2 separate regions of the Homo sapiens genome follow, and region 2 is linked to region 1. The links come from fine-mapping of genetic effects on gene expression. A gene starts in region 1. The other region holds a variant in brackets. All regions are shown on one strand. Distances are from middle to middle. Region 1 holds the start of BBOF1 (basal body orientation factor 1). Region 2 overlaps BBOF1 (basal body orientation factor 1).

What was found. PIP is the estimated chance that this variant, and not a neighbour inherited with it, causes the effect.
Region 2: its variant is the best candidate, but not a certain one, in a credible set for the expression of BBOF1 in subcutaneous fat (GTEx, PIP 0.84).

What each region holds. Positions count from the first base shown.
Region 1 is chr14:74,016,754-74,021,142 of GRCh38, forward strand. It overlaps BBOF1 (basal body orientation factor 1), which reads left to right and starts at 2,596. Exons shown (of 12, transcript NM_025057.3): 1 at 2,596-2,781. The coding sequence starts at 2,726. ENTPD5 (ectonucleoside triphosphate diphosphohydrolase 5 (inactive)) reads right to left here and starts at 2,535. Exons shown (of 16, transcript NM_001249.5): 1 at 2,497-2,535. RefSeq lists silencers at 1,893-2,187, 2,103-2,172, 2,213-2,352, 2,363-2,432, 2,463-2,712.
Region 2 is chr14:74,040,267-74,044,655 of GRCh38, forward strand. It overlaps BBOF1 (basal body orientation factor 1), which reads left to right. Exons shown (of 12, transcript NM_025057.3): 5 at 299-379. Among named protein-coding and RNA genes, the nearest start is that of BBOF1, 23 kb to the left of the region's middle. RefSeq lists an enhancer at 4,070-4,239. The variant C/T (reference allele first, on the strand shown) is at 2,408.

The DNA.
Region 1 (4,389 bases):
GTAAGCCTATGTTCAAATGAGGAGTCTTGGACTGACTTTCATATTATAAAGTTACCAATTTCTAGAATAAATTCCAAATATACAGCCTGTGACAGAAGATGCCCTACTCTCTTTTCTGCAGCTTATCAACAGTGTGCTTTTTCAGAACCTTACACATACAAAATTAATGGTAACTTTATAGATTTTACATCAGAGATAAACTCTTCAATATATGGCGATTCCGCCTATGGACTCACGGGAGTGTGAAAGTATACCAGAAATACACTCAGAAAAAGCTATGATCGGCCAGGCGTGGTGGCTCACGCCTGTAATCCCAGTACTTTGGTAGGCCGAGGCGGGCGGATCACCTGAGGTTGGAAGTTCGAGACTAGCCTGACCAAAATGGAGAAACCCCGTGTCTACTAAAATTACAAAAGTAGCCGGGCATGGTGGCGCATGCCTGGATTCCCAGCTACTCGGGAGGCTGAGGCAGGAGAATTGCTTGAACCTGGGAGGTGGAGGCTGCGGTGGGCCGAGATCGTGCTATTGCACTCCAGCCTGGGAAACAAGAGCGAAACTCCATCTCAAAAAAAAAGAAAAGAAAAAGCCATGATCATGCTGGCAGATGGTATGTATAATAAGGTTTACGCCAGCCTGACCAACATGGAGAAACCCTGTCTCTACTAAAAATACAAAATTAGCCAGGGATGGTGGTGTGTGCCTGTAATCCCAGCTACTCGGGAGGCTGAGGCAGGAGAATCGCTTGAACTGGGAGGTGGAGGTTGCGGTGAGCCGAGATCGTGCCATTGCACTCCAGCCTGGGCAACAAGAGCAAAACTCTGTCTCAAAAAAAAAAAAAAAAAATTTTACAGCCGGGGGCGGTGGCTCATGCCTGTAAATCTCAACACTTTGGGAGACCAAGGCGGGTGGATCACCTGAGGCCAGGAGTTCAAGACCAGCCTGGCTAGCATGGTGAAACTCTGTCTCTACCAAAAATACAAAAATTAGCCTGGCATGGTGGCACGCACCTATAGTCTGTTACTGGGGAGGCTGAGGCAGGAGAATTGCTTGAACCCGGGAGGCAGAGGTTGTGGTGAGCCGAGATTGCGCCATTGCACTCCAGCCTAGGCAACAAGAGCAAAACTCTTGTCTCAAAAAAAAGGTTTACAGCCGGGGCGGTGGCCCACGCCTGTAATCTCAACACTTTGGGAGGCCGAGGCAGGTGGATCACCTGAGGCCAGGAGTTCGAGACCAGCCTGGCCAGCATGGTGAAACTCCATCTCTACCAAAAATACAAAAATTAGCCGGGTGTGGTGGCATGCACCTGTAGTCCCACTTACTGGGGAGGCTGAGGCAGGAGAATCGCTTGAACCAAGGAGGTGGAGGTTGCAGGGAGCCGAGATGCCCCACTGCACTCCAGCCTGGGTGACAGAAGACTCTCTCTCAGAAAAAAAAAAAAAAAAGTTTACAAGGCTTATCATTACCAAATCGGCATGTTCCCTCAGAAGAAACAGAAATTCAGAAACAGAAACTATGCAAGTGGGAAACAAGGCGGAGGGGAGTAATTAGAGGTCAAAGACATCGGGAAGGAGTGTACGGATTAAGTCCTCCCTAGAGAAATGGTGACGAAGGATCTACAACCACATTTAAAATAAACTTTTTAATTTGAAATGGAGTATAACAGAGCAGAGCTTCAACCACAAGTCTCCTAACTATTGGCTTGGCACTCAGAATACCGTACCTTCCTTAATGACTCACTGACTGACTCTCATTGAAAAATGAGAATACTTGTGAGTACACTCCTTTTCAGAGGTGTATTCGGGATTTCAGGAGTCGGGGAGGCAAGTTGAAGAGCTTCCAACTTTATGCAACTTTCAGGAAAGAAGGCTGCGGACCGGTATTAGCAAATGGAAATCCGGGGGGCGGTCGTGGGCAGGAAGTATCGGCCACACAGGACCTAGTGAGGCCGAGGACCCTGCTCCCGACCTCGGTGGCAGCACTCCCCTCCCCGCCCGGCTCCCTGGCGTGCCGCTGCTCTTCGGAGGCTGGCAGCCTCGCCCTCAACCACCGCCCTCGGGAAAGTCCTCGACTGCCTATCAAAAAACATTTGGCCTGGGACGTCCGCTGGCTGCACTATCCCTTACAGAATCAGCAAGGGTGAAAAGCCAGGAAAGAGATGCAACCCAAAGGAGTAAGGCAGTGCCGGGAGCGGCAGAAGCGGAGCGGGGGCGAGGGCAAGGTAGCCGCGGCCACGCTGGCTGCGGCATGGAGACACGGGAGGAACGGGACCCGCGGGCGGCACGGGAAAGGGCTGCGGCTCAGACCACTGCGGCGGGACGGGCGGATCAGCGGGGATCTAAGTCTCCTGAGGCAAGGGCGCCCCGACCGCAGCGACTCCTGACACACCCAGGCCGCAGGACGAAGCGCTACCGCCTGGGGCTGCCAGCTCCCGCCTCCCGCCCGCAGAGCCCGGGCCCCACGTAGAGGATCCGGCGCCGCCGACACTCGCACACTCACCGCGCGCGCGCCACCCTTGCGCGGCAGCCCGCCGCCCTCGGCGCGACCTCCGCCCCACCCCGCGCGCCGCGGCGCCTGGGCTACGTCACGGGCGCGTGCGCTCTCCGCGCGCCGTCAGCGGCGCGGGTGGGGCATTGCCAGCTCGGCGTCCCGGTTCCCTTGGAGACAGAGCTGGCCAGGGCGGCCGCGGCTGGGCAACTACGACAGCGGAGCCCCTGGGGAAGCCAAGATGCCGTCGAAGGGAAAGGACAAAAAGAAAGGCAAGAGCAAAGGCAAAGACACGAAGTAAGGAGAAGCCACCCGAGAGTCCCCTCTCCCTGGGCCTGCCTGGGATTTCGGGTCTGGGGCTGGCAACCTGGCGCCCCCCGCGCCGGCCCACTCGGACCCTCTCCCCGGCTCTCCCGGCTTGTGAGGATTACAGCTCCCATGTCCATAGTCTGGCAGATCTCTACTATGTGTTCAGATTATCTTAAACGTGTAGAGGATGTATAAAGTAGTTCCTTGGGCCTTTTCAGAGATCTCTTTTGGTTCAAAGGGGACACCTAAAGTATTTTACCAAGTTGGATAATTATTGAGGTTTTCCCAAACTGATCAGAGCCACTGAGGTGGGTAATGTTCTAGCACTAACCCCTTACAGGCCTGGAGTTGCTGCTAGATTGCTACTAGCCCTATTGGGGGACCCCGGTGGTTTCTGGACACGTTGGAGTCATACGTGGTGTCCAGCAACAACACCATATATGGGAACACAGAGTTGGCACCAAACTTGAGATGTTTGTAAAGTAACTTAAGAGAGTAATTCATGCTCAATACAGAAAGTTTGGGAAACATGGGAAGTACCAAAAGAAAAAACAAAAATCACCTGTAGTCTCATTATCCAAAAATAAACACTACTATATTTTGGAGTATTCTTTTTTAATAAAACGATAGCCCAATGTACATACTTATATGTGGCTTTTTTCTTCCCATTTGTTAATGTAAGTATTCTTTTATGGTATTTTTTTTTTGTTTTTACATAACTGCACAGTTAGTCTAGCCCTTAAAGTGCCAAGGGCTTATCACATTCCTAGAACTCACTAACATATGTTTTCAGATTTTGACCATGCTTCTACAGTACACATTTGAACAATGAGGAACACTAAGGGTAAGAGACCTTATTCCTTGGATTTTCCATGACCCATTGTTTGAGAAACCTGGCTTTGTTTCTACAGTGAGTATCAGTGGTCCTATTAGAGTGTCTAATTTCTTGCATCAAGTACTTTTTTTTTTTTCTTGACACCAAGTTTTGCTCTTGTTGCCCAAGCCGGAGTGCAATGGCACGATCTCAGCTCACTGCAACCTCTGCCTTCTGGGTTCAACCAATTCTCCTGCCTCAGCCTCCCGAGTAGCTGTGATTACAGGCACCCGTCACCACGCCCAGCTAATTTTTTTATTTTTAGTGGAGACAGGGTTTCACCATGTTGGCCAGGCTGGTCTCGAACTCCTGACTTCAGGTGATCCACCCGCCTCGGCCTCCCAAAGTGCTGGGATGACAGCCGTGAGCCACCATGCCCTGTCGCATCAAGTACTTCGAGCCACTCAGACCTGATACCTGGATGGTCGTAGTGAGACAGTGTATCACTAGTGCCTAAATCATGCCAGAAAGGGACATCAACAGCTATAACAGGCTGAGGGGTTGGGAATGGAGCTGGCCTTAATTTGAAGAGAACAAAAGGTGAAAGTGGGACTTTGGTTCTCTCCACTGCAAACCCATTACCTCTGTGGAAGAGGACTGAGAACCAGAGGTAGGAAAGTGGATGTGGAGGGTGGCAGTATAGAAAGGTCCACATGTACATATGTGTGAAAATATTTAGAATTCAAATACAGGTGAAATATTCTTAAATATGTACATATTTA
Region 2 (4,389 bases), 24 kb after region 1:
GTGTGAGCCACCGTGCTCAGCCTCTTAATATTTTTGAAAAATCATTGACTGCAGTTATCTGAAACTGCAAAAAGTGAAACTGCACATAAGGAGGACTACTGTACTAATGTTATCAATCTGTAGAAGATTGAGGGAAATTTGGTACTCGGAGGCAGGAACACAGATTTTTTCTGTGTGTTCAGGATTAAGAGGTAACATATAACAGAAAGCATTTCCTTATTGATAATTTTCTGAGAATGTGCTCAATGACCCCCATTTTCTATTGATCATTTTTGTTTGTTTGTTATTTTAATTTTAGCTGAAAGAGAATTTAAGAAACACAGAGCGGATACATCAGGAGACTCTTAGAAGACTGGAAAGCAGATTTTTTGAAGAAAAGGTACAGATTATTAGGGTTAATTTAAAATGTTTTGTTTACTAGAACATAAGTGTATTTATATGCATTCTGAAACATCAGCCTTCCATTTGGTATCTTAATAGAAGATTAGAAGATTGTTACCAAATTATAGCACAATACAATGAGGGAAAATAAAACCTTCTAGAAATCTCAATATCTAGTCCTTGTTTTCTCTCTCATTCAGAGATTCTTGTCCTCTTCTGAAGGCTTTGGGACATGTCTCCCTCAGCTTGATACTCCCCTGGTGAGACTAAAGCTATGTGTACTCCCATTATATAGGGAAGATGGGAGTGGAGAAATCACTCTCGTATGTGTGCAAAGATGTTTCCTTAGTCAAGCCGAGCTAAAGATGTTAATAAAAAATGTTGCTTAGGCTGGGCACGGTGGCTCACGCCTGTAATCCCAGCACTTTGGGAGGCCGAGGCAGGTGGATCGTCTCAGGTCAGGAGTTCGAGACCAGCCTGACCCTATCTCTACAAAAATACAAAAATCAGCCGGGCATGGTGGCACATGCCTGTAGTCCCAGCTACTCAGGAGGCTGAGGCAGAAGAATTGCTTGAACTCAGGAGGCAGAGGTTGCAGTGAGGCGATATTGCACCACTGCACTCCATCCTGGGTGGTAGAGCAAGACTCCTTCTCAAATAAAAAAAAGTTCCTTAGCACAACACAGCTTCCAACTCCAACTTAATTTCTGTGTTTCTGAAGTTAACTCTCCAAATTGTGGGAAGTACACTGGAACACTTCTACAGAATCCTTTCAGAGGCCTCATGGTTGTTCTTTATTTTAATCCTTTCTTTAACTTTTTATTCTTAGGGAATAATTAAATAGATTCTTTCAGAAATTGGTAGGAATGTAGGCACTTGAGGGTGGGGCAAATGAGGTTTTGTTTGATTGCTTGTTTATTTGAGACAGGGTCTTGTCTGTCGCCCAGGCTGGAGTGCAGTGGTTCAGTCACAGCTCACTGCAGCCTTGACCTCCACCTCCTGGATTCAAGCAATCCTCCTACCTCAGCCTCCTAAGTAGTTGGGGCTACAGGCATATATCATCACACCTAGCTAATTTTTATTTTTTGTAGAAATGGGGTCTTGCTGGGCCTGGTGTGGTGGTTCACTCCTGTAATCCCAGCACTTTGGTAGGCCAAGGTGGGCGGATCACTTGAGGCCAGAAGTTTGAGACCAGCCTGGCCAACATGGTGAAACCCCATCTCTACTAAAAATACAAAAATTAGCCAGGCATGGTGGTGTGCACCTGTAATCCCAGCTACTCAGGAGGCTGAGACGGGAGAATTGCTTGAACCCAGGAGGCAGTGGTTGCAGTGAGCCAAGACTGCTCCACTGCCCTCCATCCTGGGTGATAAAGTGAGACTCTGTCTCAAACAACAACAACAACAACAACAAAACTGAAATGGGGTCTCATTATGTTGCTGGTCTCGAACTCCTGGGCTCCAGCAATCCTTCTGCCTTGACCTCCCAAAGTGTTGGGATCACAGGCATGAGCTACCATGCCTTGCTCCTATGGGGTTTAGATAAAAGGAATTGCTATAGAAAGTGGCTCTAGGTTCCAGTTTGTGTATGGAATAACCTGGAGGAAATGAGGCAAGAGCAGCACCCTGGTGCTTTCCCTCTGAGACCCTCCCTGGCACTGTCAGGAATGGAAGCCCTCAGGAATAGGCTGTTCTCAGGAGCCTCTCCTATTCCACCCTAATCTTGATCTCTTTTCTACTTGGTGTAGAAAATAAAGGTTAGAAAGAGTTGGTCAGTTTACAGAATACCCGAGTAACAGTGCTTATGTAAATAGGATTTTTATATATGAGAGCAGATGGCTGCTGGCCTTTCCTTCATGGTTACAAGGTAGTTAACTGCAGTTTGAAGCTCTGTGTTCAAGACAAGAAGGGAGGCTCCAGCTGTGTCTGTCCCTTTTATCTGGAAGCCATAACAACTTTCCCAGAAGCTGTTAGCACATTTCATCTTACATCTCACTGACCAGAACCATGTTATAAAGAATGCTGGG[C/T]GGCACACACTGTTCTCCCACCTACTCTGGAGACTGAGGCTCAAGGATTGCTTGAGCCCAGGAATTCGGGGCTGCAGTGAGCCATGATTGTGTCACTGTATTCCAGCCTGGATGACAGAGTAAGACCCTGTCCTTCTCTCTCTCTCTTCCTCTTTCTCTCTCTCGCTCTGTTTCTCTCTCTCTCTCTTATACACACACACACACAGACACACACACACACACACACACACACACACACTACTGGGAAAGTGAATGTTTGTTTTCCTCGCCATTAGTGGAAGCTAGGGAGGAAAAAGAAGGATGGGAATGAATGTTGGTTTGGACATCACAGCAGGGTCTGCCTCTCCATGTTAGGTACAAACTTCATGGATATTTCTCCTGTGCTGGTTTGAGCCCCGGTGCTGCAGCTTCATGGCATTGGGCTTTCCAATCGGCCTGTTCATTTACTTTATACCTCAGCATGCCCCAGCCGGCCATATAAAGGATTTCCCAGATCATTGGTGTTTGGTTTGATTTTCCCATTTATTTCTTTCTATTCTTTGAATCACAAAGCCCTGTCCTACATTTATATATATATATTTTTTAAGACAGAGTCGGCCAGGCGCGGTGGCTCACGCCTGTAATCCCAGCACTTTGGGAGGCCGAGGCGGGTGGATCATGAGGTCAGGAGATCGAGACCATCCTGGCTAACAAGGTGAAACCCCGTCTCTACTAAAAATACAAAAAATTAGCCGGGCGCGGTGGCGGGCGCCTGTAGTCCCAGCTACTCGGGAGGCTGAGGCAGGAGAATGGCGTGAACCCGGGAAGCGGAGCTTGCAGTGAGCCGAGATTGCGCCACTGCAGTCCGCAGTCCGGCCTGGGCAACAGAGCGAGACTCCGTCTCAAAAAAAAAAAAAAAAAAAAAAAAAAAAGACAGAGTCTCACTTTGTCACCTAGGTTGGAGTGCAGTGGCATGATCTCGGCTCACTGCAACCTCTGCCTCCTGGGTTCAACTGGTTCTCCTGCCTCAGCCTCCTGAGTAGCTAATTTTTGTATTTTTAGTAGAGACAGGGTTTCACCATGTTGACCAGGCTGGTCTCGAACTCCTGACCTCAGGTGACCTGCCCGCTTCGGCCTCCCAAAGTGCTGGGATTACAGGTGTGAGCCACCACTCCTGGCCTCTACATCCATATTTTTATATTGCTAGTCCCTCCTTCTGGAATGCTGTTCCTCCAGCTCTGGATCATTCTTATTTAGAGCTCAGATATCATTTCTTTAGAGAGAGATTTCCTAAACTCCAATCTAAAATGAGGCTGGGCACGGTGGCTCACGCCTATAATCCCAGCACTTTGGGAGGCCAAGGCCGGCGGATCACTTGAGGAGAGGAGTTTGAGACCAGCCTGGCCAACATAGTGAAACCCTGTCTGTACTAAAAATACAAAAATTAGCTGGGCATGGTGGTGCACACCTGTAGTCCCAGCTACTTGGGAGGCTGAGACATGAGAATCACCTGAACTCGGGAGACAGATGTTGCAGTGAGCCGAGATCATGCCACTGCACTCCAGCCTGGGTGACAGAGTGAGACTCTGTCTCAAAACAATAATAATAAAATAAATAAATAAATAAATAATAAAACGACCTCCTCTAGTTACTATCTACCTTATTACCCCATTTATTTCACTGATAGCATTTATCACAGTCTATTAATTCTTTTTATTTGTTTACTTGTTAGGGGACTGTATAGCATCAGATTGCCTGCATATAAATCCCTGCTCTGCCACTTACTAGCTTTGTGACTTTGGGCAAGTCACCAACCTCTTCTCTTTTTTTTTTTTTTTTAAACAGAGTCACCCAGGCTGGAGTGCAGTGGCACAACCATGGCTCACTGCAGCCTCTACCTCCCAGTCTCATACAATCCTCCTGGCTCAGTCTTCTGAGTAGCTGGGACCACAGGTGCACACCACCATGCCGAATTAAAAAAAATTTTTTTTGGCCAGGCGCGG